Regions from separate parts of the Homo sapiens genome. Here all the other regions are linked to region 1. The links come from fine-mapping of genetic effects on gene expression. A gene starts in region 1. Each other region holds a variant in brackets. All regions are shown on one strand. Distances are from middle to middle. Region 1 holds the start of SCAF8 (SR-related CTD associated factor 8). Region 2 overlaps IPCEF1 (interaction protein for cytohesin exchange factors 1). Region 3 overlaps SCAF8 (SR-related CTD associated factor 8). Region 4 overlaps SCAF8 (SR-related CTD associated factor 8).

Region 1 (8,367 bases):
AGTGCCCTGTCCATGGGAGCGAGTACCCTCTAGCTAGACCTATGCTTTCCAATATGGTAGCCACTAGCCACATACTTAAACATGAGTCAATTAAAGTAAAATAAAATTGGAAATTATCTTCCTCAGCTGCCCTAGCCGTATTTCAAGTGCACAGTAGCCACACAGGGCTAGTGCTACTGAATTGGGCCGCACAGATTCAGAACATTTCCATGACCCCAGAAAGTTCTATGGTGACTACTGCTCTAGACTATTTTTGACTCTGACCTCTTGGCCATGGCTGAATTCATTTCTATAAGTTACTCCCAGAAACTATTTAGTCCTCAGGGACAATCTGATGATAACATTTACAGGAGAACACCAGAAACTTTAGATTATGAAATATCTCTTCCAATGACTGAAGTACTCCTGACCACTATTTCCTATCAGTCTTTTGAGAACCAAATTAGTGGTCAGTTTCTTGGTGATGGTCACCTAATCCAAGCTGGGTCAATGAAATTCCTTATTTCTTTCCTTGGGAATTTGGATTTGGGAAGGAAGAGGTCGTCATTCAGGTCCTCAAGTTGTCTAGAACTATAAAACCAAAAGTAATAGATTCCACTAGATAAAACAGAGAATTGGGTAAAGCAATAGAAAAATTAAGCAGATAAGCAGAGATTACATTGCCTCTTAGGTTTTCTATTTTGGTTCAAGTCCCTCCCTTGGACTCAGCTACATTTCTGACTTTTGGTTACATGAGAAAAACCTGTACTGTAATAATGAATTATTATTTTATGCTTAAACTAGCTCAAATTGGCTGGTTATACTGGCAATCAGAATCCTAGCGTACATACATACACACACACACACAGACACACACACACGGGTACTGTTTTCACACTCTGTATGTAGTTGTGTATAAATTTTGTATATAGTCATTGCACTGGAACCCCAGGCTCCCCTCTAACCCTTCTCTTGCTTTATCGCCTTCTTATATTAAGATTGTGTTTAGGCTGGGCGAGGTGGCTCATGCCTGTAATCCCAGCACTTTGGGAGGCCGAGGAGGGTGAATCACTGGAGGTCAGGAGTTTGAGATCAGCCTGGCCAACATGGTGAAACCCCGTCTCTACTAAAAATACAAAAATTAGCCGAACGTGGCGTCGGTTGCCTGTAGTCCTAGCTACTTGGGAGGTTAAGGCAGGAGAATCGCTTGAACCCGGAAGGCGGAGGTTGCGGTGAGCCGAGATCGCGTCATTGCACTCCAGCCTGGGCGACAAGAGCAAAACTCAGTCTCAAAAAATAAATAAATAAAAAATAAAAGCCGGGCGCGGCTATAATCCCAGCACTTTGGGAGGCCAAGGCAAGCGGATCACAAGGTCAGGAGATCAAGACCATCCTGGCCAACATGGTGAAACCCCATCTCTACTAAAAATACAAAAATTAGCTGGGTGTGGTGGCACGTGCCTGTAATCCCCGCTACTCAGGAGGCTGAGGCACGAGAATCGCTTGAACCCAGAAGGTGGAGGTTGCAGTGAGCCGAGATCGTGCCACTGCACTCCAGCCTGGCTACAGAGCGAGACTCCGTCCAGCCCCGCCCCAACACCCCGCAAAAAAAAAGATTGTGTTTAGGCTGCTCTCTGTATCTTCCCCCTCTGCTTACCCTGATCAAACTATGCCCTCTGTTACCATTCTGAATGCGGAAGCTTTATTAAATCAAATTGTGAAGCATGTTAACCACTGATTTTATCCTTTAGCTTGTATTGCATTTTAATTTCTCAGGCCTAAGTAATTCCATCAACACTCATTTCATGTATGACCTAATAAATAATCCCTCACAGGCCAAAGCAGCGCCTTTTTTTTCCGTTCTTTTCTTTTTTGTTTCTCTTTTTGAGACAGAGCTTCACTCTTGTTGCCCCGGCTGGAGTGCAGTCACGCGATCTCGGCACGCTGCAACCTCCGCCTCCCGGGTTCAAGCGAATCTCCTGCCTCGGCCTCCCGAGTAGCTGGGACTACAAGGGCGTGCCACCACGCCTGGCTACTTTTTTTGTATTTTTAGTACAGACGGGATTTCACCATGTTGGCCAGGCTGGTCTCGAACTCCTAACCTCAGGTGATCCACCCGCCTCGGTCTCCCAAAGTGCTCGGATTACAGGCGAGAGCCACCACACCCGGCCTCAAAGCAGTGACTTCTGATTGTGAGAACCTGGCATGCACAGAACTGAGTGCAGTACTTTCTCAAGCCACAGTAAATGCTCCTTTAGATGGAGTGATTAGGGGACCTCTTTCAGGAAGATTGAAGGAGGAGGAGTCAGCTATGGAAAGGACAAGAGCAACAGCACCCTGTGTGAAGAGACACAATTGTCCTACCTATGAAAACACTGCTTCTTGTCAAGTAACAGAAAGGCCAGTGTGGCAGGAGGAGAGTCAGGGAGCAAGGGAAGGTGGTGTGAGCTGCGGCAGGCTGGGCTGGGCCTTCAGGCCATGGTGAGAAGTTATGATGGTATCAAATGGGCAATGAGAAAGTATTTAAGGGATTTAAGTAAGGGAGTGACCTGATCTGATTTATCTAAGAAAAACATCCCTCGGCTACTGTCTGGAAATGAACTGTAGGAAGACAAGCAAGGGACCAGTTAGGAGGCTACTGCAAGTGTCAGTAAAAGATCATGGCTAGGCCTGAAGATGGGAGACGGTGGAGAAATCTGTGACAGAATTTGAGATTTTGAAAGTAAATATAAAAGCACTTGGTGAGTTATCCCTGTTACCTTCTCAGTAGCCAGGCCCTATACTAAAGCTGCCAATGAAGTAGAATGAAGGCTCTGAAACCTCAAGAAGGGCCTTACTTTCCCAGTTTCACGGGGCTCTGCGCACAGCTCTTAGGAACTACCTTGATTCCAAAACTCTCCAAAAGTACGATCCTGCCCTTATGTTCCTCTCTCCCTTTGAGTGAATTTGGGAATGATTGTTGAAAAATGACTTTCAACAAGAGGACAGCAGTGTTCGGGGTTCCACGATACATCCCTATCTTTTAACATCGATAAGTATTTTTAAATTGGTACCTTATTTTGCGCTGCACGAGAGAGAAGGCTTTTTACTAGCAGCATCTCCTAATCCATCTAAGAAATACTGTATTTACCTTTACTCCAAGTATCCTAGGGCAAAATTCCTTTAGAACAATTCATCTTCCGAAACAGACGGGTTCCCTTTTCACCTATTCAAGTGTTGTGCATTCTAGGGTCCCCTTCCCGCCTTGCAGACAAATGCGCTCATTGTGCCACTCCAGTCCCTGGATCCTATGCAGCGGGCATTTCCTGCAAGGAGCTGCTGCATGCCTGTTTCCCTCGCCGCCTGCCCCAACCCGAATCCAAGGCTTTGGTTTCTAATGTTCCCTCCCTGTGCAGTTAAAACAATTGAGTTCAGTTACTAAATAGATGACCAGGAACTTTTTCTTGGCGAAGGCTGCGGATGTTTAGGGCACTGTCCAGTAAAGTTGTGAAAAGCAACTAAACCCTGCCGCTTGTGCAAAAGGACCAATCCACCGGGAAACAAGGGAAACGCGCACATTTCCTCAACTTGCCGCTTCTTGGGCACGTTTAGGCTCTTATTAGAGCCGCGCTTTGGAGTTGCCTCCTCCTGCTGTACAAACCCGCCGCGGCGTTCCCCCGGATGCCGCAGCGCTCACTCCCGCGTCCGCGGGGCGCGGGGAGGGGGCGAGGCGCGGGCGGCCCCGGAGCCAAGGCGAGGGCAGCGGAGCCCAGCCGGGCCTACGGGCGGCGACGCTCTGGCCCCAGCGCGCTCGATGGTTTCCGCGCGGCCGCCGGGGCTCGCACGGTCCAGTCGCCAGGGGGCGCGCTAGCCGGCGCCGCGGATCCCCGAACTGCGCGGCCCGACTCGAGTCCGCCATATTGGATGCCGCAGCCGCTGCTGCCAGCGCTTCCTCCTCTGTCTTCGCCGAGCGGGGCTGGTTCCTGCGGCCCGAGCGGCGGGGAGGTGAAACAGGAGCCCGTCGGAGGAAGGGGCAGAAGGGAGTGGAGAGTGTAGGGGAAGGGGCTAGAGGGAGGGGGACCGAAACGGAGCGGGGCAGAGAAGAGAAGGCGCCGCGGCCCAGCCCCTCCCCCGCCCGCCGCCGACCCGCCCCGGCAGCGCCTCTGTTCCCTAGAACGGCGCTCCCCCCGCCCTAGCGGCCATGCCGGTGCCGCTCTGCCGCTGAGGGAGCCCTTCCCCGCCAGCGCGTGCCCTTCCACTCCGCCCCGAGGTCGCAGCGGCCCGCTCTCCCGCCAGCGCCCCCTCCTCGCGGCCACGCAGCAGCCCGCGTCTCGCTCTCCCCACCCAGTGCAGTGGCCGCCGCCTCTTCCGCCGCCGGGCTCGGGGCCTCCGCAGCGACAACATGGAGGCCGTGAAGACCTTCAATAGCGAGGTTGGTATGGCAGCCGGGTTCCCCTGCTCCTGCCCGCACCGCCCCCACCCCTGGTCGAGGCCGGGGCCCGGAGGGTGGGCGCGGGCCTGCGGGTTTTTTAAGGGTGGGGTGAGCGGTGGCCTAGCAGTGCCCGTGGGGGAGGGGTGTTTCTCCTCTGGGTGCCCCTCCCCCGGGTCCGGGAGGAGGGTTGGGGGAGGGCCGCCCTGGGGCGGAGGGAGGTTCTGGCGTCTCCGGCGTCCTATGGAATGGCTGCGAGCTCGGAGGGAAAGACCCGGTTGGGCCCTCACCCGGAGACTCCCGACAGGTCCCTCGAGGTCAGTTCCGCCGAGGCCTGGCCCGCCCACCTCCTTCCTGGGCCTTTGAGGATTTAAGTGGACGCTGGACATGACTCTCCAGACCTTCCCGGGTCCTCACTGAGGCTAACACCGATTGGGGGCGGTGGGGGAAATGAACCTACGGGGTGTTGATCTGTGGTCACGTTACACGTAGTGTTTATAATTGAGGCATTGTTGACTAGGTAATTTGCCAGCTAGGGACTTGAGCTAATTGGATGGTTGGTAGGCAGGCAAAGGTTATTCTGCAATATCTTTTATTTTTACTCGCTCCTCTTCTAATCCATCACGACATAAAGACAAATGGTAGGGAGAGATCTGTGCATCGAGAGATGGAAGATTATGGGGGAAACATTTCTCGCTGGTTCATTCACGTGTCAAACAAGATTTTAAAAAGCAGATTCCATTTTCACTGTGTAGTTGAATTTACTAGTCTGGAAGAAGACAGGTTTTGATGTATTCAATTTCTTTTTAAACTCCGACTTCAATAGGCCTTAATGTAAACATCAAACATAGCAAGTACACATCTGCACAGTCAGCATTAGTATCCCTACCCGTACGCCTTGGAAAGTGTAATTATGGCCGGGAACAGTGGCTCAGGCCTGTAATCCCAGCACTTTGGGAGGCCGAGGCGGGCCAATCACGAGGTCAGGAGTTCAAGACCAGCCTGGCCAACGTGGTGAAACCCTGTCTCTACTAAAAATACAAAAAATTAGCTGGGCGTAGTGGCAGGCACCTGTAATCCCAGCTACTTAGGAGGCTGAGGCAGGAGAATCGCTTGAACCTGGGAAGCGGAGGTTGCAGTGAGCCGAGATCTGCGCCACTGCAATCCAGCCCAGTGACAGAGTGAGACTCTGTCTACAAAAAAAAAAAAAAGAAAAAGAAAAAGTGTAATTATGCTGGTAACTAAATTAGCATAAATTTTATGAACTCTTAAAGTGCCAATACTTTATTCGATACTATGATTGTTAAAGAGTATCTTTAATATTTACCTCTTAAAATACGAGGCTTTTTGCTGTGACGGCCCAAATAGGACAGTACTTTTAAATGCCGTTGCATAGTTTTATCTTGTTTTAATTTCTTTAAAAAGAAAAACAGTATTTGGGAATCTTAGCTAAGAGGCTAAACGGTAGATAATATTTGGGCTATTTTCAATAGCAGTGATACATAACTTTTTTTGGAAAGCATTTTCTTTTTTAATACTACATTTTTTATTTTTAACATTGATAAATTAGAGCAATAGACTTGGGAATCTTCTTTTTTTTTTTTTTTTGAGACAGAGTTTCGCTCTTGTTACCCAGGCTGGAGTGTCACCATCTCAGCTCACTGTAGCCTCCACCTCCCGGTTTCAAGCGATTCTTCTGCCTCAGTGTCCCGAGTAGCTGGGATTACAGGCGCACATCACCACGCCCCGCTAATTTTTGTATTTTTAGTAGAGATGGGGTTTCACCATGTTGGCCAGGCTGTTCTCAAACTCCTGACCTCAAGTGATCCACCCGCCTTGGCCTCCCAAAGTGCTGAGATTATGGGCGTGTGCCACTGCGCCTGGTGTTTCATTTTTTTTCATAGCTATCTTTCTTTTTTTGAGGAGTGTCATTCTGTCACCCAGGCTGGAGTGCAGTGGTGTGATCTTGGCTCACTGCATCCTTTGCCTCCCGGGCCCAAGGGGTCCTCCTCTCACCTCAGCCCCCCAAGTAGGTGAGATTACAGGCCAGTGTCACCATGCCCGTCATTTTTATTTTTTATAGAGAGGAGGTCTTGTTATGTTGCCCAGGCTGTTCTTGAACTCCTGGGCCCAAGCGGTCCTTTCACCTTGGCATCCCAAGTGCTGGGATGACAGATGTGAGCCACCACGCCTGGGGGATTTCGTTTTGTTTTGTTTTTTGCCCTCATTGGATTTAATTCCCGCCGCCACCCTCTTCCCCACACACACTTTGTTGGGTGTCTGTCTTTGGGGGGGTTCCTAATAATGTGGTCCTCCCCCTCAAAGGGCCATCCAAGACTTTTTTTTTTTTTTTTTTTTTGGAGACGGAGTTTTGCTCTTGTTGCCCAGGCTGGAGTGCAATGGCGAGATCTTGGCTCAATGCAACCTCCACCTCCTGGGTTCAAGCAATTCTCCTGCTTCAGCCTCCGGAGTAGCTGGGATTACAGGCACCCACCGCCATGCCCAGCTAGTTTTTTGTATTTTTAGTAGAGATGGGGTTTCATCACGTTGGCCAGGCTGGTCTCGAACTCCTGACCTCAGGTGATCCACCCGGCTCGGCCTCCCAAAGTGCTGGGATTACAGGCGTGAGCCACTGCGCCTGGCCCATCCATGACGTTTTAAACAGTAGCTCCCAAATATTAGATGTAAACAAGTGGTTAGTGCACTATGGTTGGTCACAGTAGGGAAGAAATGTTAATTCCAGTTTTTCGTTTTAATATTAATTAAGGATAAGGGGGCCTAACATTTACATGTGTAGATAGGTGTTTCACCTGTTTTCTCATTTTACAGGAACTTGAGGTTTGTCTTAGTCCCATTTTAGTGTATGTAGCACTCTCCCATTTCCCCATATGGATTTCAAAGAACTTAAGTCTTGTAACTTCCTTATTTATTTATATGCTCTAACTTCACCGTGTTTCAAAGTGGAGTTAGCTTAAAAATAGCAGTACAGAGTCAGGGAGTTGAGGAAGGGAAATATATTTGAAGAAGATTCAGAAAAATACTTTTTTTTTTAAACACAAAACAATACATAATACTGTTTTTTATTTTGAATGCAGTTTCTGTGAATGTTGTAATATTTGCTGATGTGTAGTAAACATTGTTATTGCAAATAAGTATATGCTGAGAAGTAGTTCAGTAATGATTGTTTTCCATTAAATTATGTGTTACAAATTACAAAAATTAAAAAGGAATTCTAGTTGCAGGATTAGGAGAAAAGGATGTTTTCGACGCTCATAGTTTGGCTTTTAAAGGTGTTTATCTTTGGGTTTAATCCATCACAACTTCTCTGCTAAATTTAAAGGTATCTTTGAAACATTGAATTGTCAATTCCATTTGCTTTGTAAGGAATCAAAATTTAGCTCTAAGAATAATCAGGAACGTTTGTCAACAAGATATTTTGATACTTCACCTTAAAATATTTAAAATAGGCTGGGCTCGATGGGTCATGCCTGTAATCCCATCCCTTTGGGAGGCCGAGGTGGGCAGATGACTTGAGCTCAGGAGTTCCATGCTAGCCTGGCCAGCATGGCGAAACCCCCATCTCTACAAAACAACAACAACAACACAAATTAGCTGGTCACGGTGGCATGTGCCTGTAGTCCCAACATGGGTGAAGGGGGTGTAAAGGAGGGGGCAGGTGCTGAGGTGGGAGGATCTCATGACCCAGGAAGGTGGAGGCTGCAGTGAGCTGCACCACTACACTCTGGCCCGGGCAACAGTGCGACCCTGAATCAGAAAAATTGAGACAGGTACTCGCTGTTGACAGGTCACCACGCCGGGCTAATTGTTTTTGTTTTGTAGAGATGGGGTTTTGCCATGTTGCCCTGGCTGGTCATGAACTCCTGAGCTCCGGTGATCTGCCCACCTCCCCTCCCAAAGTGCTGGGATTACAGGCCTAAGCCGTGGTGCCTGCCCCAAATTAAATGTTTAAAATACAAAAT
Region 2 (8,367 bases), 550 kb before region 1:
TGAAAACTGGCATAAGACAAGGATGCCCTCTCTCACCACTCCCATTCAACATAGTAATGGAAGTTCTGGCCAAAGCAATCAGACAAGAGAAAGAAATAAAGTGTATTCAATTAGGAAAAGAGGAGGTCAAATTGTCTTTGTTTGTGGATCACATGATTGTATATTTAGAAAACCCCATCATCTCAGCCCAAAATCTCCTTAAGCTGATAAGCAACTTCAGCAAAGTCTCAGGATACAAAATCAATGTGCAAAAATCACAAGCATTCCAATACACCAATAACAGACAGAGAGCCAAATCATGAGTGAACTCCCATTCATAATTACTATAAAGAGAATAAAATACCTAGGAATCCAATTTACAAGGGATATGAAGGACCTCCTCAAGGAGAACTACAAACCACTGCTCAATGAAATAAAAGAGGTCACAAACAAATAGAAGAACATTCCATGCTCATGGATAGGAAGAATCAATATCATGAAAATGGCCATAGTGCCCAAGGTAATTCAATGCTATCCCCATCAAGCTCCCACTGACTCTTCACAGAATTGGAAAAAACTACTTTAAATTTCATATGAAACCAAGACAATCCTGAGCAAAAAGAACAAAGCTGGAGGCATCATGCTACCTGACTTCAAACTATACCACAAGGCCACAGTAACCAAAACAGCATGACACTGGTACTAAAACAGAGATATAGACCAATGGAACAGAACAGAAGCCTCAGAAATAACACCACACATCTACAACCATCTGATCTGACAAACCTGACAAAAACAAGCAATGGGGAAAGGATTCCCTATTTAATAAATGTTGCTGGGAAAACTGGCTAGCCATATGCACAAAGCTGAAACTGGATCCCTTCCTTACACCTTATACAAAAATTAACTCAAGATGGATTAAAGACTTAAACGTAAGACCTAAAACCATAAAAACCCTAGAAGAAAACCTAGGCAATACCGTTCAGGACATAGGCATGGGCAAAGACTTCATGACTAAAACACCAAAAGCAATGGCAACAAAAGCCAAAATTGACAAACGGGATCTAATTAAACTAAGAAGCTTCTGCACAGCAAAAGAAACTATCATCAAAGTGAACAGGCAACCTACAGAATGGGAGAAAATCTTTGCAATCTATCCATCTGACAAAGGGCTAATATCCAGAATCTACACAGAACATAAACAAATTTATAAGAAAAAAACAAACAACCCCATCAGAAAGTGGGCAAAGGACATGAACAGACACTTCTCAAAGGAAGACATTTATGCAGCCAACAGACATATGAAAAAATGCTGATCATCACTGGTCATCAGAGAAATGCAAATCAAAACCACAATGAGATACCATCTCACGCCAGTTAGAATGGTGATCATTAAAAAGTCAGGAAATAACAGATGCTGGAGAGGATGTGGAGAAATAGGAACACTTTTACACTGTTGGTGGGAGTGTAAATTAGTTCAACCATTGTGGAAGACAGTGTGGTGATTCCTCAAGGATCTAGAACTAGAAATACCATTTGAGCCAGCAATCCCATTACTGGGTATATATCCAAAGGATTATAAATCATGCTACTATAAAGACACATGCACACATATGTTTATTGTGGCACTATTCACAATAGCAAAGACTTGTAACCAACCCAAATGTCCATCAATAATAGACTAGATAAAGACAATGTGTCACATATACACCATGGGATACTACGCAGCCATAAAAAAGGATGAGTTCATGTCCTTTATAGGGACATGGATGAAGCTGGAAACCATCATTCTCAGCAAAATATCACAAGGACAGAAAATCAAACACTACAGGTTCTCACTCATAAGTGGGAGTTGAACAATGAGGACACATGGACACAGGGAGGGGAACATCACAGACTGGGGCCTGTTGGTGGGTGGGGGGCTGGGGGAGGGATAGCGTTAGGAGAAATACCTAATGTAAATGATGAGTTGATGGCTGTAGCAAACCACCATGGCACATGTATACCTATGTAACAAACCTGCACGTTGTGCACAAGTATCCTAGAACTTAAAGTATAATAATAAAAAAAATTATATTAAAATTACATATCTGATTCAATAGATATTAAATCAGTAAAGATAAAAATAACTTTAGAATCTTAGGATAACATGGCATATAATATATTCCCTACATGAAAAATAAATGGAACTTTCTTTTTGATAGCTTTATTATTTAATGTATTTACATGAAGATATATGACCTTTATGTTAAAAATATCGAAGGGTATCTTCCTCCCCCTCTTCCATTTCTTTTTCTAACTTAAACTTTGGGTTGGGCAACTGTGTATATGTAAATACAACTTGATCTTCCAATAAATAACTAAACTTTAAAATTAACAAACAGATAAAGTGAACCTGTTGGGGTAACCAGACATGAAAACAGAATTCACCTAAAATTTCATATATTATGCTCAAAAAAACCAATATCTTCAATTTAAATTAATCCAAAAATGAGATAATGGCAAGAAGTATGTATGTTCACATAGGATTAAAGCTGTTCAGAAAATGAGGAAATAATGAAAGGCAAATTATCACTCAGCTTCCTGCCTCTCAGCCATCCCTCTCTCCTCAGAGAAAGCCTGGAACTGAAAGACTGTGTGTCTGACCTCTAATAACCTGATTCCAGAATCATCCACAAGCATAAAACAGTAAAATAATAAATTCTGGTGTTAGGAATCAAGAAAATACCCTTATTGGCTGTTTTGTGTGTCATAATCTAAGAGGTCTACAACATATCACTAAATACTCAGGGGATGCACTGTGCCCCAGGTCCACGACCCAGTCAGGGACATTACATTGTTTTTATTGTTGCTAATGGCTGATGCTTAGGTCTTCACAGGGCCATAAAATGAACATCCAGTGGAAGCAGGTGATAAGTAGGATCACAGGACAAAAACAGACCCAAAAGGTACAAGTGCAAAAGAAAACACAGCTTGTACCTGACCCCAAAGCAAATGTGAGAATCCTTCTCAATTGCTATACTAAGACTACAGCAGGCTTGTCAAACCTTTCTGGCTACCCTTGTACCTCCAAGAGGCTTTTCAGTAAAGCAGTATTTTAAAAATTTCCCTTTTGCTTTTTATATATTTTTCTAAATTAGAATTTCATAGTAGAAAACACTACATTATTTCTCTTATCTTACAAGATCATAAAGAGCGAGGAAAAAAGATTGGCAGAGAAGACCGCTTGTCTCTCTCCCATTGGAGACGGGAGCCAAATTAATTATTTCCGCCCCCCCTTATCTTCTGAAGCAAAATAAATGAATTTTGTCTGACAGTCAAGTGTTTCCAATGCAATTTTTATCCTTCCTTTCTGGAGCATATTTTAGTCTTCCTACATAAAACAGCAGGACTTTGATTCTGCCACAGAAGGCACTTTAAAGTCTGTCTTATCTCACCTCACAAGTGTTTTGTCAAGGAAGATGAAAACTATTTTTATTTTATGGATGAGAAAAATAAAGATTCCGGAAAAACAGTAAGTGATCTTTTCAAAATGCAAATTAGTGATGGAGTTAAGAATAAAAGTTCACTTTCACACCGTGCAGAATCATGCCCTTCTAGACCACTCCTCTCAAACTTTTAACAGGCACTCACCTAGGAACCTTGTTAACATGTAGATTCCATTTGAGTTCATCTGGGATTGTGCCGAGATTGTAAATTTTTAACAAGCTCCTAAGTGATGCTGGAATTGCTGGTCCATGAACCATACTTTGAGTAGCAAGG[C/T]CAGCCTGTTAGCAATTTTTCATGCAATGCTAGCCTCAAGTCATTGGAAGAGAAAGCAACTAGAGTTACAACTAGCACACTGAGATTTGTCCATAAAGCAGCACTCTGTATTATCTCTTAACTGAAAAACCAAAACAAGAGAATGAAAGAAAATTTGGCTTTGCTCAAAGGAGTATGTCCAAAATCCCTGCTTAAAAGTGTCAGTGCCTCATAATGTTGAGTTGGTGCGAATTTGGGTTAATGTCAGTGACCCTTCACTTTTGTTAGACTAGCTTAGGATGTCTCAAGGGGTCAGACTCCTAAACTTTCTTCAAACTTAGGTCAGCTACCTAACTAGTTAGACTCAAGAAAGGAGACATATATATATATATACTGAGCTAGTTTAACAACAACAACTATATATATATATATATATATATATATATTTTTTTTTTAAACATGATCCTTCTTGGTGACATTAGCAAATGAGACAAAACAACATTTTTAGCCAACAGTTATAAGTTCACTCCTTTCCAAGACCCTGCCAAATGAATGTGCTGCTCCCTTCTCCTCCTCTTCCATACCCCAGTCTATTGTCTGCTCTGACAGCACAGGCATGCCCCAGTAGGCCCAGAATTTGGCTGTCGAGAACACTGTATGCAGATTATCTCTTTAAATGCTATATTTTCAACTCTGCCTCCCCCACTATCTTATTTTTGGTCTTTCCTTGTGCTTTCTAGAATGTGGCTGTTTATTTTCTACTTAGAACCTAAATGCTGGATTCAGAAGACAGGAGGGGAATTCATATGCCATATTTCTTATCAGAATTTGAAAGGAAATTTGTTTCAGATTAGGAATGTCTAAATGATGTCCCAGGGAAGATAATTTTAGTTCCCCAACATGCAACACTTGGAAAAATTTAGGTAGAAAACAGCGTTTCCTGTTCATATGCAATGTTCTAAGTGCCTGAGAAAGAAAAGACCGTGGAAGGCACTTGTCACCAAGAGAAGAAAAAACTATATAGTCATTTGGGTATTTTGCATACCCTAAAGGTATGCAAAACCTTAAAAGGCTTTACACATGTTATTTAATATAGCACCTGATGCCAAAAGATCAGAAGAATTGTATAGGCTTTCTCCAATTAGTAAATTTGACAACTCTACAACATAGCAAAAGATTTGAAATCATAATGATATATTTAAATTATTTAATTAAGAAAAAAATCTGGATAACTCATTTTAGTAGTGAGGACACTACTGACCAACAACATTGGCATAGTATAATTTGAGAGAGAAATCTCCTATTTTTGTTCCTGTTGGGTAGAGATAACGATCATACATTGAGTTTTTACTATGTGACATGCACTGTGTTAATTCTTAGACCAACGTTATTTCATTATCTTTTAACACTTCTATGAGAAGTGTTAAATTAAAATTCTTTCACCAAATTCACAAAGAGACAAACCTAGGTTGTGACTCCAAAGCTCGTTTTCTTAAATACTATGCTTTAAATTTACATAGCTATACTATGCTATGAATATATATATTTGATGCGTTCTTTTGAATGAAAGTCAGTGAAGACTATATATTTCAAATTAGGCAATATATAGTCACTGAGATAGCAGTTGACTGAACTGGACAGACCAAGGCTCAGATCCCTGCTTGAACTACTGCATCTTCAAAGGGAGCAATCCCCACCCGGAGCCTCTGCTGCTGAGGTTCCCAGGTTTTGTACCTCAAATTCTGTCTCCACAGGGCCGCAGGGCACGAGACCTGAGAGCAGAAAATTGATAAGCCAGCCAGCAATCTAGGACACAAACCACAAAATCAGATTACCTTCTTGGGGACTTGAACTGGACACTTGGGGATCATGAACCAGTTGAATCAAAAGCAGAAGGTAATAATCATAAATACATGTGTACAAGACTGCAGCCATGTATTAAACAGAGGTATGAGTGCTTAGAAGATGAGAACGTCAAGTTGGGAGAACACTCTAGTTGGGAAAGGTGAGGCGATTTTAAAAGATGGCAGGTTTGTAACAAACCTGCACATCTGCGCATGTATCCCAGAACTTAAAATTAAATTAAATTAAAATTTTTAAAAAAGATCACAGGTAAAAGAAATTCCATGAGAAACTGAACATATTAAGAGAAAGAGAGAGAGAACACCCAAGTATAAAGCTAATGTTTTTACTTGTGCTCTCATGAATCTAAGACAAGAGTAGCTTCATTTTGATTTCCCTCATTTTCCTCTATTTGTTTTACCTTCTCTGCCAGAGTCATGTACGTATCTTCTTTCATGTGTTTGATGTTTCTGTTAAGACAGCTCAAGGCTCTTCTACTGTATTATTGCTTTTATTGATAAGAACAATCCTAGTCTATTGGGTGATCTTTAATGGTTGTTTTGCTGTTGTTATTATTGAGTCTTGAGGCAATCGTTTTCTGAAATAATCTTAAGTTGACTCCATTGCTCAACTATCTGATTAAGTAGCTTTATATTCTTAAAACAAATATTTCATTTGTTTTTAAATTTTATTCTTCCAAATATAGGAGCACCCAGGATTAGGCAAGATATTTAAAGTAGACATAAAATTACTATGTTTCCTCATATGCTAAGAAAACAGAAAACGTTGGTGTACATACAAAAAAGATATTTGATCGCCTTTTTTTCTTCTTAAAATACGTTTATGAGGTATCAGTTGAATGAGAACAAAATGGTAGCAGTGGGTGGGAAGCTGGAAAATGACCTAAATTCTAGGATACGAATCCAATGCATTGTAGATAAATATGTTAGCTGTGGCACCATAACCCGCTGGATCCATCAACCATGTGGATCCATGATGGGGACAAGTGAATACAAAAGGTAAAAATGAAAATTTTAGAAAAAGGAAAGGGATGAGACTAGGGAACACTTCAGGTCAAGAACAGGGAGGCAAGAGAAAGGAAGAAGTTAGCTTATCTCAATTTCACTAAGCAGAATATGAAGGCTGAACAAATAAATGCCCTTATCTTTTTTTTTTCTTTTTTTTTGAGACGGACTCTCGCTCTGTAGCCCAGGCTGGAGTGCAGTGGTGTGATCTCAGCTCACTGCAACCTCTGCCTCCCAGGTTCAAGTGATTCTCCTGCCTCAGCTTCCCCAGTAGCTGGGATTACAGGTGTGTGCCACCACACCCGGCTAATTTTTTGTATTTTTAGTAGAGACGGGGTTTCACTGTGTTAGCAAGGATGGTCTCGATCTCCTGACCTCGTGATCTGCCCATCTTGGCCTCCCAAAGTGCTGGGATTACAGGCGTGAGCCACCACACCCAGCCACCTTTATCTTTTCAAGATGGCGCTCTCATTCACTTATCGCTATGACTATTATCTACTGCAATCTATGTACTTGCATAACATGACCTAAATAGGTAGATATACCATATTCATGGATGACTTAATGCTTTAAAGATAGTACTTCTTGCCAAATTAATCTAAACATTTGAGAACATTTTGACCAAAATCCAAAAATTATATTCTAAATAAAACCTGAAAATTAAATTCACAAGATTACCTGAATGATAGTGCCAAGGAGAGGTGCGCTCTATAGAATACCAAAGGATGCTATAAAGGTATGTTCTAACTACCATACTGACAAAGTGATAAAAAGAAAGATTGGGCTGGGTGGTGGCTTACACCTGTAATCCCAGGACTTTTTGAGGCCGAGGCAGGCAGATCACTTGAGGTCAGGAGTTTGAGACCAGCCTGGCCAACAGGGTGAAACCCCATCTGTACCAAAAATACAAAAATTAGCCAGGTGTAGTGCATGCCTCTAGCTACGTGGGAGGCTGAGGTGGGAGAATCACTTGAACCCAGGAGGCAGAGGTTACAGTGAACCGAGGTCATGCCACTGCACTCCAGCCTGGGTAACAAAATAAGACCCTGTATCAAAAACAAACAAACAAAAAAAACAAAAAACAAAGCAAAACAAAAAACACAAACAGGAAAAGAAAAAAATTGTTTTGTGGTCAGAACATTTAAGCAAATTTCAAGTACACAATGTAGTACTGCTAACTCTAGTCACTATGCTGCATATTCGATCCCCTGAGCTTATTCATTTTATAGCTGAAAGCTGGTACAGCTGTTGTTGTTGCTTTATTTAAGAGAAAGTTTTCAGTGTATCTCAACATTTGAAGAATTGCTTGGTCCAAGGGCAAGTACACTTCAAATGTTGAGTTACACTGAAAACTTTCTCTTAAAAAAAAATAGCTGTATCAGCTATCTCAAAATGTAATAGCACTGGCATATAAAGTGATACATATTAGAATGTTTACTGTAACACTCTGTAATAATAAAAAATTGGAAATCACCTACATTTCCATCTTTTGGAGAATAAATAATACTACTATACTAGTAGTAGTATAATATTCACACCACAGAAAATGATGCAGTTATCAAAAATAACAAGGTAGAGCTGCATGTACTAACAAGGAAGGCTTATGTGGAAAAACAGGCTACAGATGGATATCTGTCACCTAATTCTATTTACATTTTTTTTAAAAGACCAATGGTATATGTGTGTACATCTATGTATGTGTATGTATATATATATATGCGCATTGGTACATAGAAAAAATACACTCCAAATTGTTAATAACCAGAATGCAAGATCCAGA
Region 3 (8,367 bases), 100 kb after region 1:
GGTAATAGATATATTTCAGAATAGCAAGTGGTGGTATATCTTATCCATATCTTTAGGCTGCTGCAGAATTTTAAGGTTATAGATAAAGCTGTGATATTTTATGCAAAGACTGGCTCTAGGTATTTGAGGAGCACAATACAGAGATTTTAAAAAGTGATTTTGTAAAATCTACACTACGGTCTCTGTTTCTCCAAAGTAAGTGTTTGTGATTTGTTCCTCATACTGCAGTGAGTAAAAAAGAAACAAGAAAACAACAACATAAATATTAAAGTACGTTTCAATGTTGGGTGAATTTTGTTTTTAGATGCCAATAAAACTTATTTGTTTGATAACAGTGTTCTAGGAATTGTATTTTTTTAACCTATAAATTCTTAAAACCTTGAATTATTATTAGCATGTGCTTATTTTTTGCAAAAGCTTTCTATCATAACAACAATGAACTATGTGGTGGAAAAAGCATGTACTTTGATATAAAAATCATGCAGCCTCCTCAGTATGTGTATAATATCTGTGTATGTTTATTGTGGAAGTCGTGTAGTTTTTTTCTGTTTCTCTGTATGTCCGTCTTCATGCACATACAGAGAAAATAGAAAGTTGAAAAAGTTTAGATAATAAAATATTCTTTTAAATCTGGTAGAATATTGGAGAAATCTGGCTAATTAACATGGGTTATAGTTAAAGCTCTTGGTCTTGATGAAGGTAAAATAAGAGATATTATAAAGAGATACACTGGTAGTTTGGCAGTTCTATTTTTAATATAGGTAAGCATGAAGCCAGAGTTAGCATGGAGCCAAATTTCACATAAATGCTTGCATTGCTTTGTTTCACACTATATTTGCTATTCTGCGTAGATAGTACTGACACTAAAGTACTCACTGGTCACGTGCCTGAAGTTAATTTCTTAATTGCACAAAATGTGTAGTGGTGCTGGTGGACTTAAAGACATTAATGTGTATACCAGGAACATAATACCCATCATGTGTTTTGTAGGGCTCTGGGTAACACTGTAGCCTGCAAGGTAAACTGAGTAGGGAAAAAAGTAGGGGTTGGCTTCCTGTTTGTTTTTGCTTTTGCTTTTAATTTTTATTTGCTATTTGTTCTCTTTTAGGTTTTACTTATATACACAGATATAAAACCATTGGTGTTTTTTAGTTTCTAATGGAAGGCTTTTATTTGGTTCTATGAGTAGTCATTTTGTTTCCAATGCCTTACCAGCAATTTATCATTTGCTCTGTTTATCTAAAATTTCTAAGCAAAGATAGCTCCAAAAAATGATAGAACACACCAGACATTTAAAATTGGATTGGTCTTGCCTACCTCTGATGACCTAGAGAGCTATAAGAACTTTAAGGTTCCTCGTCAAAAATGAAAGACTTCTTATAAGTTCTGAACAGGGATAGTACAGTATTTATTTTGTTATTTAGAAAAGTAAAGAGTAAAAATATTTCAATGGTATTTACTTCCAAGGTAATTCAGTTCAATCAGTAATTTGAATTGGTTTCAACTCTTTTTTCCTTAGGGTAATGAGGAAAAACTATTACATGGGTACAAAGTTTTAATGTTCAGGAAATATTGGCCTTGCCCTTAAGGAAATTATATTGGCTGAGATTTCTCTCAAACTAGTTTGTTTAGCATTATTAAAATTAAGTGACAGTCACTTGGATTAAATAGCGATAAAAAGCATGAGACTTTCTAGTGATTTTTGATGCCAAGCTTCTTATCACTGTTGGGCCTTCACGTGTGTACTTGAAAAAAAAAAATGTACAAGCATTGCACTGGTTTGAAGATTCTAGTAGTGAAAGTTACCTAACCAGTTATCGGTACTGTATCTAGAAACCAATCTTGGAAATGTGTGATGACACTCTTTTAAAATAGTTAAAAGAAATTATCATGTGCTCGTTCTTTGTCCTTGTTTTTTGTTGTATAGAATTTAAGTGAAAAGAGATTATCCTCATTCAGAATTTTCAAAAGTCATAATTGCATTTGCCATTTTTTAAATGATGGAGAGAAAAGTTAATTATCTTACTTTGATAAATTTGGCATAGGACCTATCACATTTTTTATGCTTTTGGTCACAGTTCTGTCACTAGAATACTAGCAATTAGAAATGTGCAAGGAGTAACCTAACCACTTTAATACATTGGTTTGAAGTGTTGCAAGCAGTGATAACTAGACACCAAATCATGTAGTGTTTTAATTTGTGACATGTTAGAATGATATGCCTTTCTGCAGTATTAGCGAACACCTAATTTTTATCTGTATTTAAACATTTCATTAAACATTAGCTTGTGTTCTTAGCATAAATGCATGCACTGATAGAAACTTAGTTTACAGCAGAGTAATCTGCATCATATGTTCCTTTATTTTAATTTTATTTCAATAAAGGGTAGACAAATAATTTGAAAGTATTGGAAGATGAAAATACTAGAAGTATGAAATTACTTAAAACTCTGGAAGTAACTCCATATAATATTTAATAGATAAAAATGCATTCATTATTTAAGCTATTGCATTCTTACCAGACCAGTTCCTTTTGTCCTGAGAGTTTAGTTTCTTCATTAAATTTATTTGCCATTTTTCACTCATATAAAAGATTATAGTTTAAGGAGCCACACATTTAGGGTTGTTTGGGGGTTAGGGGACGTTTTGTAAATTTAAAAAGGAGAAGTCATCTTTTTAATTTGAAAAAGTGCTTTTTAAATAAACACTGTATTTCGTGGGATATAAGGTGCCATTGATTGTAAGAAACACCATTCAGAAATAGAAAATACTTCTAATATGACATGCTAGTGTTTATAGATACATTCCTAATTCAGAGATAAACGTGAAGTTTCCTAGTATCAAATAAATACAATATTTATTATTGAAATGGACTTTCAGTTTAGTGAGAATATATGAACATTACTGTTAATCAGTTAATTTGAATAAATTTTCTACCAGTCTAAACATTGTTTTTTTTTTTTTTTTTTATTTGAGATGGAGTCTCGCTCTGTTGCCTAGGCTGGAGTGCAGTGGCGTGATCTCCGCTCACTGCAAGCTCTGCCTCCCAGGTTCAGGCCATTCTCCTGCCTCAGCCTCCCAAGTAGCTGGGACTACAGGCACCTGCCACCACGCCCCGCCTAATTTTTTTTGTATTTTTAGTAGAGATGGGGTTTCACCATGTTGGTCAGGATGGTCTTGATCTCCAGACCTCGTGATCTGCCCGCCTCAGCCTCCCAAAGTACTGGGATTACAGGTGTGAGCCACAGCACCCGTCCCAGTCTAAACTTTCGTACGCACACACACACACACACATATCACCTCAAGTGATTTAGAGAATATTTTGTTTTTCTTCACTATTATGTCTAATATATATATGATATCTAATAAGCTTTCTGTTCTGTGTATATATATTAGATATCTAACAAATATATATCTAACAGATTATATTATATATATATATGATGGGCACAACCTTTAATGAACAAGAAGATTCTCATATTAAAACTTTGTTATACCTTATGTGCCTTCATCATCATTACTTTATTGGGTGCTATATTAATAAAATACTTGGCTTTTAACTTACAAAGAAAACTAACATATTTCTCTTTAAAAATATTTTACTTACATAATATATAGAAAGGCAAGTATCTTTATATTCATTAGGCAAAATAAAGGTCTAAATTATTTTAAGTAGTCATACTATGGTGTGGCAGAGAATTATAAATCTTAATATTGTTCATGCTGTGGTTTCATATATGATATCTTTTAAACTAACAAATTGTAGACACTGAAAATTTATTACTTCTGAAGAGAAATATTGATTATTATAATTTTTAATGGAAGATTTAAAAACAAG[A/G]TATCTTGATATCCAGCAAAACTTTCTAAAACTAGAACTTAAAATTAAGGGCCCAGATTGTTTGTTTTTTTTTTTTTTTGGTGGAAAGGCATACTTTAAATATGGGCACATAAATATTGAAAGCAATTTGAGATGTCCCCTCTCTCTGGTTCCCAGGCAGGAAATGTATAACAGAAACACCTGTGGAGCTCTCTGAAAATATTTTGGTGGGGGTATGGGGAGTAGAGGGTGGTCACCACAGAGTTACTAATACAGAATCTCCTGAGGGTGATATATATATAAAATATATGCATACATGCACCTTCCTGTGTATATATGGTTTTTTAAATCCCCACATACCACCATTTCAGATATATTAAAATATGTACATCTTTATTATACCATACTCTTGAGATTCTTAAGATTTTTAAAAATCCAAATATTTTAGTTACATGAGATTATGTTTAGTGTTTCAACAAAGCATGCAGTTAACTGTGGCAGTTGGTGTTGGAGGATGATTCAAAAGTAGAGAAGTCAGTTATCACAGCTTAAATTTAAGCGTTAATCTAAAGATGAGTTATAGGAAGAAAGGGATGGCAGGAAGCATATGAGATGGTTTTGTAGGGAAGTATTTTTTTTTTTTATGCAAGTGAAACTTGTTCATGGATTATTACCTCAAGGAAAATTTACTTGATACATGTAATTAAGTGTTTTGATTATAGAAAGAATCTCTTTGGACCAATATTGTAGGTGTTCAGGGTCTAGAAGCAATGTTATTAGTAAGACTCCTTAGATGTGCATGTCAAAACTAATGCAAATCAGTGAATTATTTGTGCATGAGCTTTGCTTAGGCATTTTTCATCCCCTCCACTTAAGTTCCTCCTTTTTCATCAGGCTCTTTTGCTCCCATATGTATACTTAGAATGACTCGGGCTTCTTGTTCTAAAGTTTATTCAAGATACAGAACAAATATTCTAAGTAATTTGTAAAATATATATTGTATATCAAGGGATAGAATTGTGCTAATGGGCTAATTTCATATTGTATGGGAGACATTAGATGCCTCAGTTAATTGAGGGTGTTTTTGCGTGGAGCTCAATAGATAGTTCAAGTATATTGTATTTGAATCGCAATGGTGGAAATATAGCACCTGGTTGTCCTGTGTTCTTTGTTCCCTACCCTCTCCCCCGACTTCCATCCCCACCCCTGTGGGCAGCTATCATTGTTTTGTTTTATTTTTCTGCCTTTCTCAGAATTAGCCTCCAAATCCTTCTCATAGAGCACTCCAGGCTCCTTTTTGACCCCATCATTCCAGGCAGGGACCATCAATTGGATTTGTTGTTTGCATTGAAAGTCATTTGCTGCCCCTTCACTAAGTGATTATTTCTGACATCACTTCTAGCATTTAATTACCTCAAGTCTATGAAATAAGCTTTCTTTTCTGTAAATGACCAGTTGAGGAAGAAAACTAAGAGGAATGGAAAGACTTAACATTATTGGAACACTTTTAAAAATAGCACAAATTTTATTGCCCTTGGGTTTTTAAAACTGCCTTTAACAATAGCTAGATGTGTGGCTTTGGACAAGTTACTGAGCCTCTAAACATCGTTTGTTATTAGCTAATCTGAAGGGGTAAATTTTCATTATTAAAGATAATATTAGCTAATACTAAATGGACACATGCTCTGTGACAGGAACTGGAATAATTGTATTACCTGCACAATATAATCCTTACGACAGTCCTATAAGGTACTTATTACTTCACTATTTTTCTGAAGAGAAACCCAAGACACAGATTTAAGTTACTTTGCAGACTCACTGTAGTGAAGATTTAAACACTGTGTACCAGATTCAAAAATTAGTGTGTACCATCAGATAAAGTGCCTGACATGATAGAGGCTCACCAGATATTAGGCAATGTATATGCAGAAAAACATAACCCAACCAGCCATATGTTTATAGCCACAGTTAACCACTAAATTGTTTCCATTGTTACAAACATATATCGGGCTATCTCCTTTTCCTATGGCTAAATAATTAAGTTTGATTTTCTTAGATCTCCCTTTCTTCTTTTTCTTTTTCTTTTTTGTTTTCTTTCTTGAGATGGGATCTCGCTCTGTCATCCAGGCTGGAGTGCAGTGGTGCGATCATAGCTCACTGCAGCCTTGAACTCTTCCTGGGCTCAAGTGATCCCTTCTGCCTCTGCCTCCGCCTCCACCTCCCAACATGCTGGGATTATAGGTGTGAGCCCCTATAGGCACCTGGCCCGTATTTGCATGATTGGTTTTTTTTTTCCTTAAGGTTATACCATGGCATAATATTTTTAAATTTCTTAATAACTGGCTATTTTGGAGGCAGACATTTATGTTAAGATTTCTTTTTGAATACGCTTTTTCCTGCAAATTAAATAAAATTTAAAATTCCTTATATCTTTTAAAATGCTTTGTAAAGCAGAGCCAGTGATTGCTTACAAATTTATATTTTAGGATTTGGTTTTGGCAGCTTCTTTCCAAAATTTAACATTTATACACTGCATGTATAACTAAAACTTAGTACCATTTTCTTGTGCATAAAACTCCTATTTTAGGAATATTCCATGGCTTGAATTAAACAATGTGTAAAGTTATTTTTACACGTAGTAAGCATTTAGTGCTAGTGTTTACTCACCACTTCCATTCATATGAAGAGTTTAGAAACTAATCTTTGTCCTTAGCGGCAGTGGATAATTTACAGTACTTTTACCTTATTAGAATATATAACCTGATTTTGTTGTTTTTTTTTTTAAGTCTTCTATTCAAGTCACTAAACTTTATATTCATATAAGGTTTAATCCACAGCATGTCATGATGCTGGCCTTTGATAACTTTTTTCAAGAGTCCTTGGACAGATGACTGTGACCATTGTGGCCATATTCTTACCTAATCCACACATTGGAGAACGTGTTTATCAAGTTTATGAGTTATATTTCCACTAATCTTCGTAAAAGTAATTATCTTGCTTATTATTACATGAAATAAATGTTGCACGTGAACAAGCATTTTTTAATAATGAGTCTGTTTATTACTGAACTAAGTTTATACGTTAGCAAGGGTTTCAGTAAAATAAGATTTGTGTTAAATAATCTTCAGAAGTGGTATTCTGTGGTGATAAAAATTGCTTTAGGGTTGCATTTATATCGCTGCGGTCATACCAAGGGTCAGGATATAGGTTTTTAGTTGGCAAAACCATCAAGGACTCCATTTAGAAGGGTATTTTTAATAAAATTTATTGAGTATTTTAATTACAGCCCTCTGCTTTCATGTATTTTTGCTAGCAAAATAGTCTTTGACCATAGGTTTAATGCACTCTCACTACAAGGAGAGAAGGGTTTTGAGGGTGGAGAGACTTGAACCTGTAGTGTGGCAGGCATTCTACAAAATATATTTTCAGAAATACCCTATGTGGTAGGCTTTGTTATCTTTTCTTTACAAGTGAAGAGGCGAATTCAAAAGATGCCTATGGTTGGTTACACAGCTTTTGATTTGCATAGGTATTCGAACCCAGGTTTTGCTGACTTCAATGCTTTACCTTAAAAGATGCTTTTTTAGAATGGTAGATGTTAATAGATGGTCTGTGTAATTAGTTTCCTGGGCCTCCTGCAACAACATAGAAAAAAATGGGTAACGTAACATTTATTCTCTCACAATTCCAGAGGCCAGAAGTCCAAAATCAAGGTGTCAGCAGGGCGATGCTCTCTGAAGGCTCTAGAGGAGAATCCTTCCTTACCTCTTCCAAACTTGTGGCAGTTCTCAGCAGTCCTTGGTGTTCTTGGCTTGTAGATGCATCACTCCAATATCTGCCTCCATCACCCCCCAGCTGTCTTTCCTCATATGTTTTTGCATCATCTTACCTCTGCGTCTGTGTTCAAGTTTTCTTCTGCTTATGAGGACATCGGTTATATTTGTTTAGGAGCCTACCCTATTCCAGTGTGATCTCATCTTAGTTACATCTACCATGACCTTATTTCCAAATAAGGTTACATTTTCAGACATGGTAGTTAAGACTTTAACGTATATTTTTGGGGTTGAGAGGACACAATTCAGTTGGTAACAGCTATGACAAAATTGGGTAAATTGATGAACATCTTAAAAAAAACACAGTGGAAGAGGCAGGCACTGTAGAGTGACAAAATACATCTTTATAGAAATTCCATGTTAAAATTATTTTGTGTTATAATAATCAAATTTAAATACCTAATACATATATTACCATTAAACAGGATAGTCAGCACTACCTAGTTTTTTAGCTGAATTTGTAATGTCCATATGTTTATGTTTCTTTAGTAATACTTGAACTAAAGGAATTTGCAAAGAAAACCCAATAATATTAGTATTACATCAAAAAGTTACTGTGTATTTTTCTTCCATCAAGAAATAATGCTGACTTTTAAAGGTGGAGGAGTTTTTAGACTTCAGTAAACATAGGTACCCTGAAAATGTGCACTGTTGTATCTTTTCACTTTTGTATGTCAGTGCTTTGAAAGAATGGACAATGTTATCATTTTGTTTTGT
Region 4 (8,367 bases), 47 kb after region 1:
AGTTGTTTTGGCTTTTTTACTTAAGTAACTTAAACCATTGAGTAAACTTACTTTATTGTAAGTAACTTTAGCCAGACTTAAACTTGTAGGTTTTGATTTGGTGAATATGAGTTCATGATGTTTTCTTTTCTTTTTGTTATTATAAATACTGGATTTAGTGCTGAGGTTTAGTTGAATGTTCCTATTTCTTCAGTCTAAGGGAATGTCCTTAAAAAGCATAATTCACGAGAAGAAAAGTATAAAGAAGGCTGGGCGCAGTGGCTCACGCCTATACTTCCAGCACTTTGGGAGGCCGAGGTGGGTGGATCACTTGAGGTCAAGAGTTAGAGACCAGCCTGGCCAACATGGCGAAACCCCGTCTCTACTAAAAATACAAAAATTAGGCGTGGTGGCTGGCACGCATCTGTAGTCCCAGCTACTTGGGAGGCTGAGGCAGGAGAATCGCTTGAACCCGGGAGGCGAGGGTTGCAGTGAACTGAGATTGTGCCGCTGCACACCAGCCTGGGTGACAGAGTGAGAGTGTGTCTCCAAGGGGAAAAAAAAAAAAAGTATAAAGAGAAGCACAATTCAGGTTCTTTAAACAGAAATCATACGCCAATATGGTATTGTTATTGTGGCATTAAAATTTATTAGGCACACATGTATATACTATACGCTAAATTTATAATTTATTTCAAGTTTATTCATAGTGCTATATTTTATGAAACTTAAATCTTCTAAGTTTTCTTAAAATTGATAGTGGCCAATTACTAATTTTTAATCTACATGTTCACTTCCGCTGATTCATTTTGTCTGATCCATTAGGATATTATACATTTCTATGTTTTATTTTGTATTCTTGCAGTTCATTTTCCAGGAGAAGCAGAAGGAGATAAATGAAGTAGAAAACTACCTTACATACATTTATTAATGTTATTTGTAGTTACTTGATTTTTCAAATTTCCCTTGATTTAACTGATAAAATCATACTGTATGAAATCTGTACTTTTCCTTTCATGAATATAAGAATATACACCCACCAGTACTTATTAGAAGTATTTTGAAGTCAACACAACTGTTTGTTAAAGTATGCTTTCAGAAAGTCTTCAATAGCATTATTTTATATCTGTGGTAAGGTAATGCACTTTGGACATGCTGATCACACATCTACTTTAGAGAAGCCCTTTACTAATTATATAGCACAGCTAGTTGCATATAAAGGTGAGTGACAAGAATGTTTGTCTCAAAATTCTTGGTTAAGATAATTGTTTTGATAGACCTTTGGAGCATGTAAAACCTATGGTTAGCAGGAAATTTCAATCTCCTCAAACTGATTTTAAAACCATACTTCATTTTTTTCCTCTTTTAGTTCTATAAACATGTGGTACAGAGTGTTGAGAAGTTTATTCAGAAAGTAAGTATATAATTTTCCATACATGTGCTGTAATTGTAGATTAATGCCTGTACTCTTCTCCTTTAGATCAAATACCCAAGTTTAAATTGTTTTGATGGACTGTTAAAAAGTGATTCCAGTTATTTTATTTTCCAATTAAGAAATAAAATAAAAGTGCCTTTCAGATAATTTTACTTAGGTTTGTATTCTGCCTATGTTCATGTGCCTAAATGTAAGCAGAGCCAGTTTGAGAATCGGTGTCATGTGGTATTAAGGATTCAGCAAGGTTGCAGTGTGTTTATGTTCCACTTGGGAGAAGGGTGCGGGATTTGAAGTGAGATTTCAGTCATTCAACTGGCTAGGTAACTTTGAATAAGTTAGTTAGCCTTTATGTCATTGAGTTCTTTTTTCTTTTTTAAAATTCTTGTTTTCTCAGTATTTAAAATATAGTATTGATAGGCTGTGCACAATGGCCCACACCTGTAATCCCAGCACTTTGGGAGGCCAAGGTGGGTGGATCACTTGAGGCCAGGAGTTCAAGACTAGCCTGACCAAGATGACAAAACTGTGTGTTTACTAAAAGTACAAAAATTAGCTGACCTGGTAGTGCATGCCTGTAATCCCAGCTACTTGGGAGGCTGAGGCACAAGAATTGCTTGAACCCAGGGGGCGGAGGTTGTAGTGAGCTGAGATCACACCACTGCACTCCAGCCTGGGGAACAGAGTGAGACCCTGTCTCAAAAAATGTGTGTGTGTGTGTGTGTGTGTGTGTGTGTGTGTGTGTGTAGATAAAACATACTTGGGGATTAAGTGGTTTAGGTAACTTGAAGCTAAGATAAAGGGTTGAATAACAAGTATGCTGTCTGTTTCACTTAAAGTTTAAAAATGTTAGTGATTAGAAAATTTTATTTGGTCTAACGCTTTTAAAAGCATTTCTCAGAGATTGTTCTGATTAAAGATCTTTCTTTAAAAGTTTTAATGTCTGGTTTTGTTTTGTTTTGTTTTGGTTTTTTTGTTTTTGTTTTTGAGACGGAGTCTCACTCTGTCGCCCAAGCTGGAGTGCAGTATCAAGATTTCGGCTCACTGCAACCTCTGTCTCCCGAGTTCAAGCTATTCTCTTGCCTCAGCCTCCCCTGTAGCTGGGATTACAGACATGCGCCACCACGCCCAGCTAATTTTTTTGTATTTTTAGTAGAGATGGGGGTTTCACCATGTTGGCCAGGCTGGTCTTGAACTCCTGACCTCAAATGATCCATGTGTCTTGGCCTCTCAAAAGTGCTGGGATTATAGGCGTGAGCCACTGCGCCCAGCCATAAAGTTTTAATGTCTTACACTATGCCTCATAAACTTGATGAATAGGAATTTACCTAGAATTCTTGTTAAAAATGTGGATTCTAATTCACCGAGTGTGGAGAGGAACCTGAGATTCTGCATTTGTAACAGCTCCTAGATGATGTTTCTTTACAAACCACAATTTGAGTAGTAAAGGTTTAAAAGGTAAAAGTGAATTTATGGATAAATGCTTGTTGACTGATTTGATTTGTGGTAGGGTACTTTGAATAAAATGTGTCAGAATCTTAGGAAGACCTGGAATGAGCAAAGTTACTCTATCGTGAGATAATTACAGTCAATCTGAAGAAGCCAATCAGTGTATGGGGAAAAACTTAAATGCTTTGCTATTACCCTGTTTAAATCAGAGATCCAGCAACAGATTTGTGTAATGGTTAAAATAAGGTGTGTGTGTGTGTGTGTGTGTGTATATATATATATATATATACACTTTTTTTTTATACTTTTGAGCTAATTGTAGATTCACATGTCATTAAATCAGTAGGAATAAATCATGTAGAGATCCCATGTGCCCCTCACTCAGTTTCCCCCTGTGGTAACGTTCTGTAGAATTGTAGTAAAATATTACAATCAGGACATTGATACAGTCACCTGTTGACACACTAACCTTATTCAGATTTTAATTGTCTTACATGCACTCATTTGTATATGTATGCATTTAGTTCCATGCCGTTTAATCACATATATAGATTCATATAAACATCACCATAGTCAAGGTACAGAACAGTTCCTTCACCACTAGGATGCCTTGTGTTTCCCTTTTATATACTCTATAGTCATACTCGACTCACCTCCTCCTCCCCATCCCTAATCCCTAATGCCTGGCAGTCATTAACCTGTTCTCTTTCTCTATTTTACATTTCAAAATGTTATATAAATTGAATCATACAAAATGTAGCCTTTTGAGATTGACTTATTTTGCCCAGCGTAATTCTTTTGAGATCTAACCAAGTTGTTGCATGTATCAAATAGTTCCTTCCTTTTTTTTTTTTTTTTTTAAATTTAAGTTCTGGTATACAAGTGCAAAACA[CAT/C]AGGTTTGTTACATAGGTATACCTGTGCCATGGTGGTTTGCTGTACCTATCAACTTGTCATCTAGGTTTTAAGCCCCACATACATTAGCTATTTGTCCTAATGCTCTCCCTCCCCTCGTCCCCCACCCCCGACTGGCCCTGATGTGTTTTGTTCCCCTCCCTGTGTCCATGTGTTGTCATTGTTCAACTCCCACTTACGAGTGAGAACATGGGATCTTTGGTTTTCTGTTCCTATGTTAGTTTGCTGAGGATGATGGCTTCCAGCTTCATCCATGTCACTGCAAAGTACATGATCTCATTCCTTTTTATGTCTGCATAGTATTCCATGGTGTATATGTACCACATTTTCTTTATCCAGTCTATCATTGATGGGCATTTGGGTTGATTCCATGTCTTTGCTATCGTGAATAGTGCTGCAGTAAACATACGTGTGCATGCGTCTTTATGGTAGAATGATTTATATTCCTTTGGGTATATACCCAGTAATGGGATTGCTGGGTCAGATGGTGTTTCTGGTTCTAGATCCTTGAGGAATTGCCACACTGTCTTCCACAATGGTTTAACTAATTTACATTCCCACCAAGAGTATAAAAGTGTTCCTGTTTCTCCACAGCCTCACCAGCATCGGTTGTTTCTTGACTTTTAAGTAATCACCATTCTGACTGGTGTGAGAGTTTATCTCGTTGTTTTGCCCCAAAAACTCCTTAAACTGATAAGCAACCTCAGCGAAGTCTCAGGATACAAAATCAATGTGCAAAAATCACAAGCATTCCTATACACCAACAATATACACCAAGCAGAGAGCCACGTTATGAATGAACTCCCATTCACAGTTGCTACAAAGAGAATAAAATACCTAGGAATATAGCTAACAAGGAGTGTGAAGGACCTCTTCAAGGAGATCTACAAACCACTGCTCAAGGAAATCAGAGAGGACACAAACAAATGGAAAAACATTCTATCCTCATGGATAGGAAGAATCAATATCGTGAACATGGCCATACTGCCCAAAGTAATTTATAGAATAAATGGTATTCCCATAAACTACCACTGACATTTTTCACAGAATTAGAAAAAACTACTTTAAATTTCACATGGAATAGGAAAAGGGCCTGTATAGCGAAGACAGTCTTAAGCAAAAAGAACAAAGCTGGAGGCATTGCACTACCTGCCTTCAAACTATACTACAAGGCTACAGTAACCAGAAGAGACATATGGTTTCCTTACTTTTTATTTCTGAGTAGTATTTCAGGGTATGAATTTACCACAGTTTAATCATTCACTCATTGGGGTTCATCTGGGTTGTTTGTAGTTTTTGGTTATTATGAATAAAGCTGCTAGGAACACTTGTATACCCAGAGTGTTTTTGTGTGAATGTAAGTTTACATTTCTTTGGGATAGTGAGTACATGTTTCCATTTTATAAGAAGCTACCAAACTGTTTTCCAAGATGGCGGTACCATTTTATATTCTCTTCATATACCATAAATTGTGTGAGGGAGAAGTGTGGCTGCAGTTTGGTCATATATTATCCGTGAACCCATGTTTTAGTCATGAAAGATTTATGGAGTAATAAATGACAGTAAATGAAAAATTAACAGTAAATATGATTTCCTTTAGGCCAAGAAAACTACTCTAAAGAATACTCTGGTCTCTGGCCTTGTCCTAATTAATTTTGCCAAAAATCAGTTCATATGCTGATTGTGTCTTAGCTTTATAAGACAGAAGCACCTGGGCACTCTGGCTCATGCCTACAGTCTAGCAGTTTGGGAGGGGCCAAGGCTGGGCTCAGGCATTTGAGACCAGCCTGGGCAAACGTGGCAAAACCCTGTCCCAGCCTAAAAACTACAAAAATTAACTGGGCAAAGTGGCAAGTGCCCGTGTTCCCAGCTGCTTATGTGGGTGAGGTGGAGGGATTGCTTGAGGCTTGAGTTCAGGAGGAAGTTGAGGCTGTAGTGAACCATCATTGTGCCACTGCACTCTAGCTTGGGCAACAAAGCAAGAGCTTGTCTCAAAACAAAACAAAACAAACAAACAGAAAAAATGGGGGCGGCAGCAGCAGCAGAGGCGGGAGTTAGAAACAGATAAGGAAACTTCAGAAGACAGGTTTTAGAACTTGTTATGATCCTGTGTCAGGGTTCTCTAGAGGGACAGAACTAATAGGATATGTGTATATATACACACATATATAGGGTATACATATATACAGGGGAGTTTATTAAATATTAACATAAGTATTAACTTACACGATCACAAGGTCCCACAGCAGGCTGTCTGCAAGCTTGAGGTGCAAGGACGGCCAGTCTGAGTCTCAAAACTGAAGAACTTGGAGTCCAGTGTTCGAGGGCAGGAAGCGTCCAGCACAAGAGGAAGATGTAGGCTCTGAGGCTAGGCCAATCTCTCGTTTTCATATTTTTCTACCTGCTCTATACTTGCTGGCAGCTGATTAGATGGTGCCCACCCAGATTAAAGGTGGGTCTACCTTCCCCTGCTCACTGACTCAAATGTTAATCTCCTTTGGCAGCACCCTCACAGACACATCCAAGATCAATACTTTATGTCCTTCAATCCAGTCAAGTTGACACTCAGTATTAACCATCATAGATCCCTATATTTGCATTATAAATAACTAACTTACCTTAGTTATCCTGAATCCTAAAGGCAATAAATTTTATTTTGAGCCAGAGACCTCATGATTTGGTGACTTTTCTACCATCCATAGCTCTGTTCTCATTTGCTGGTTTGAAATGCAAAAATGAAATCCTCAGCTCTGTTCCAAAAATATGTAGAGTTTACCCAACTCTTTTTGTCTGTATGAAATCCCTTGCCTTTTTTTGCATGAGTACTACAAGCAAATGTGTCTACTAGATTCAGAATAAGATCGAATATTATCATTCAGAACTATTTATTTTGATAAAATCTAGATGCTTTGTTACAGTGAAATACATTCTATGGTACTGTGGCTACTCTTAGATACGGTGAGGTCAGGAATAAATTTCATCTTTCTGGCTCTGAAAGTGGTCTGTAGATGAGTTACTATTGCCTTAATCTGTAAGCTTTTGGCTATGATTACCTTCTTCAAATTTCCTGCTACATATTTAGTAAGAGCAGGAAATGTGGCTTATTTGTGGTGATTTTCAAGTTACATTTACTTTGTAAATAATAAATGAAAAGATGGTGCTAAACTGTCTAGAGATTATCATCATGAAAGTTTTTTGTTTTCTAGAAAGTTGATCTGGTAGCTGTATGTACATGGTTGTTAATGGTGGTTGATATTTTGCAGTGGATATGTATATATTTTTCAAAGAAGCGAAACATTTATTCTTCTCTTTGATATTTTTCCAGAGGAAGGATTGAGTCCACATTGAAAGATGGCTGTTAGCTAGGTGCAGTGGCTCACGCCTATAATCCCAGCACTTTGGGAGGCCGAGGTGGGCAGATCACTTGAGAGGTCAGGAGTTTGAGACCAGCCTGGCCAAAATGGTGAAATCCCGTCTCTACTAATACAAAAATTAGGCAGGCGCGGTAGCACATGCCTGTAGTCCCAGCTACTCAGGAGGCTGAGGCAGGAGAATTGCTTGAACCCACAAAGCAGAGGTTGCAGTGAGCCGAGATCATGCCACTGCACTCCAGCCTGGGTGACAGAGCGAGACTCCGTCTCAAAAAAATAAAAAGAAAGATGGCTGTTATATTTACTTATCTCTGGTGTCTTGAGATATATATATATATATATATATATATATATATATATATTTATTTATTTATTTTTCATGTAGGGTGCAGTATTCTGTAACTGGACTTTTATCATGAGTATACCTTTATGCTTGGAGGTAGGATACAAAGAGATTTTTGTACATGGGCACAAATAGTTTGAAAGGAGTATATTTCCAGATTCTCACTTTTCATATGTATTTTTATTAAAGTTCCTCTTCCCTAGGATATTTTAGATCAACACAAGTTCCACACTTTTTAAATTTACATTTCAAATATATCTTAAGCTTATCAGTCATTCTTAATCATTATGATTAGAGAAACTTTTGCCTCTTGCTTTATTTAAGAAACCAGGGATGTTTATATAATTACAGTCACTCTTCCGTTTCTGTGGGTTCCAACCCATGGGTTCAGCCTATTGGGATCAAAATTTGGGGAAAAAATATTCCACGAAATTCCAGAAAGCAAAACTTGAATTTCCTATACACTGAGTAGAATGTGAATGAAGTGATGTGTAGGCATTGTATTAGGTATTCACAGTAATCTAGAGCTGATTTAAAGTAGATGGGATGATGTCCGTAGGTTATATGCAAATACTGCCCATTTTATATAAGGGACGTGAGCATCCTCGGATTTTGGTATCTTCAGGGGTCTTGGAACGAATCCCCCAAGGCTACTGAAGGACAACTGTATTTCTTTTTATTCTGAAATTTCTATGTACATCTGTAGAAAAGTACAGAAAACAACATATACAGCCAAATTTTTATAAAGAGAAGACCTATGTAGCTCCCACTCATTTCAAGAAGTAGAACTTTGAAGCCCACAAGCCCCAAGTGCCTCTTCCTAATCATGTCTTGCATACCCCCTACCCAGGTAACCAGTTTGAATTTTGTGTCACGTCCT

The links. PIP is the estimated chance that this variant, and not a neighbour inherited with it, causes the effect.
Region 2: its variant is the best candidate, but not a certain one, in a credible set for the expression of SCAF8 in visceral fat (GTEx, PIP 0.77).
Region 3: its variant is the best candidate, but not a certain one, in a credible set for the expression of SCAF8 in whole blood (TOPMed, PIP 0.51).
Region 4: its variant is the best candidate, but not a certain one, in a credible set for the expression of SCAF8 in whole blood (TOPMed, PIP 0.52).

What each region holds. Positions count from the first base shown.
Region 1 is chr6:154,729,541-154,737,907 of GRCh38, forward strand. SCAF8 (SR-related CTD associated factor 8) reads left to right here and starts at 3,876. Exons shown (of 20, transcript NM_014892.5): 1 at 3,876-4,390. The coding sequence starts at 4,361. RefSeq lists silencers at 3,509-3,748, 3,779-3,898, 4,049-4,648 and an enhancer at 3,909-4,412.
Region 2 is chr6:154,176,250-154,184,616 of GRCh38, forward strand. All of the region lies in intron 10 of IPCEF1 (interaction protein for cytohesin exchange factors 1), which reads right to left. It also overlaps a transcript of OPRM1 not described here. Among named protein-coding and RNA genes, the nearest start is that of OPRM1, 140 kb to the left of the region's middle. The variant C/T (reference allele first, on the strand shown) is at 3,742.
Region 3 is chr6:154,833,729-154,842,095 of GRCh38, forward strand. SCAF8 (SR-related CTD associated factor 8) reads left to right here. Exons shown (of 20, transcript NM_014892.5): 20 at 1-493. Among named protein-coding and RNA genes, the nearest start is that of MIR1273C, 15 kb to the right of the region's middle. The variant A/G (reference allele first, on the strand shown) is at 3,839.
Region 4 is chr6:154,776,653-154,785,019 of GRCh38, forward strand. SCAF8 (SR-related CTD associated factor 8) reads left to right here. Exons shown (of 20, transcript NM_014892.5): 3 at 1,349-1,393. Among named protein-coding and RNA genes, the nearest start is that of SCAF8, 47 kb to the left of the region's middle. RefSeq lists a silencer at 2,150-2,350. The variant CAT/C (reference allele first, on the strand shown) is at 3,753.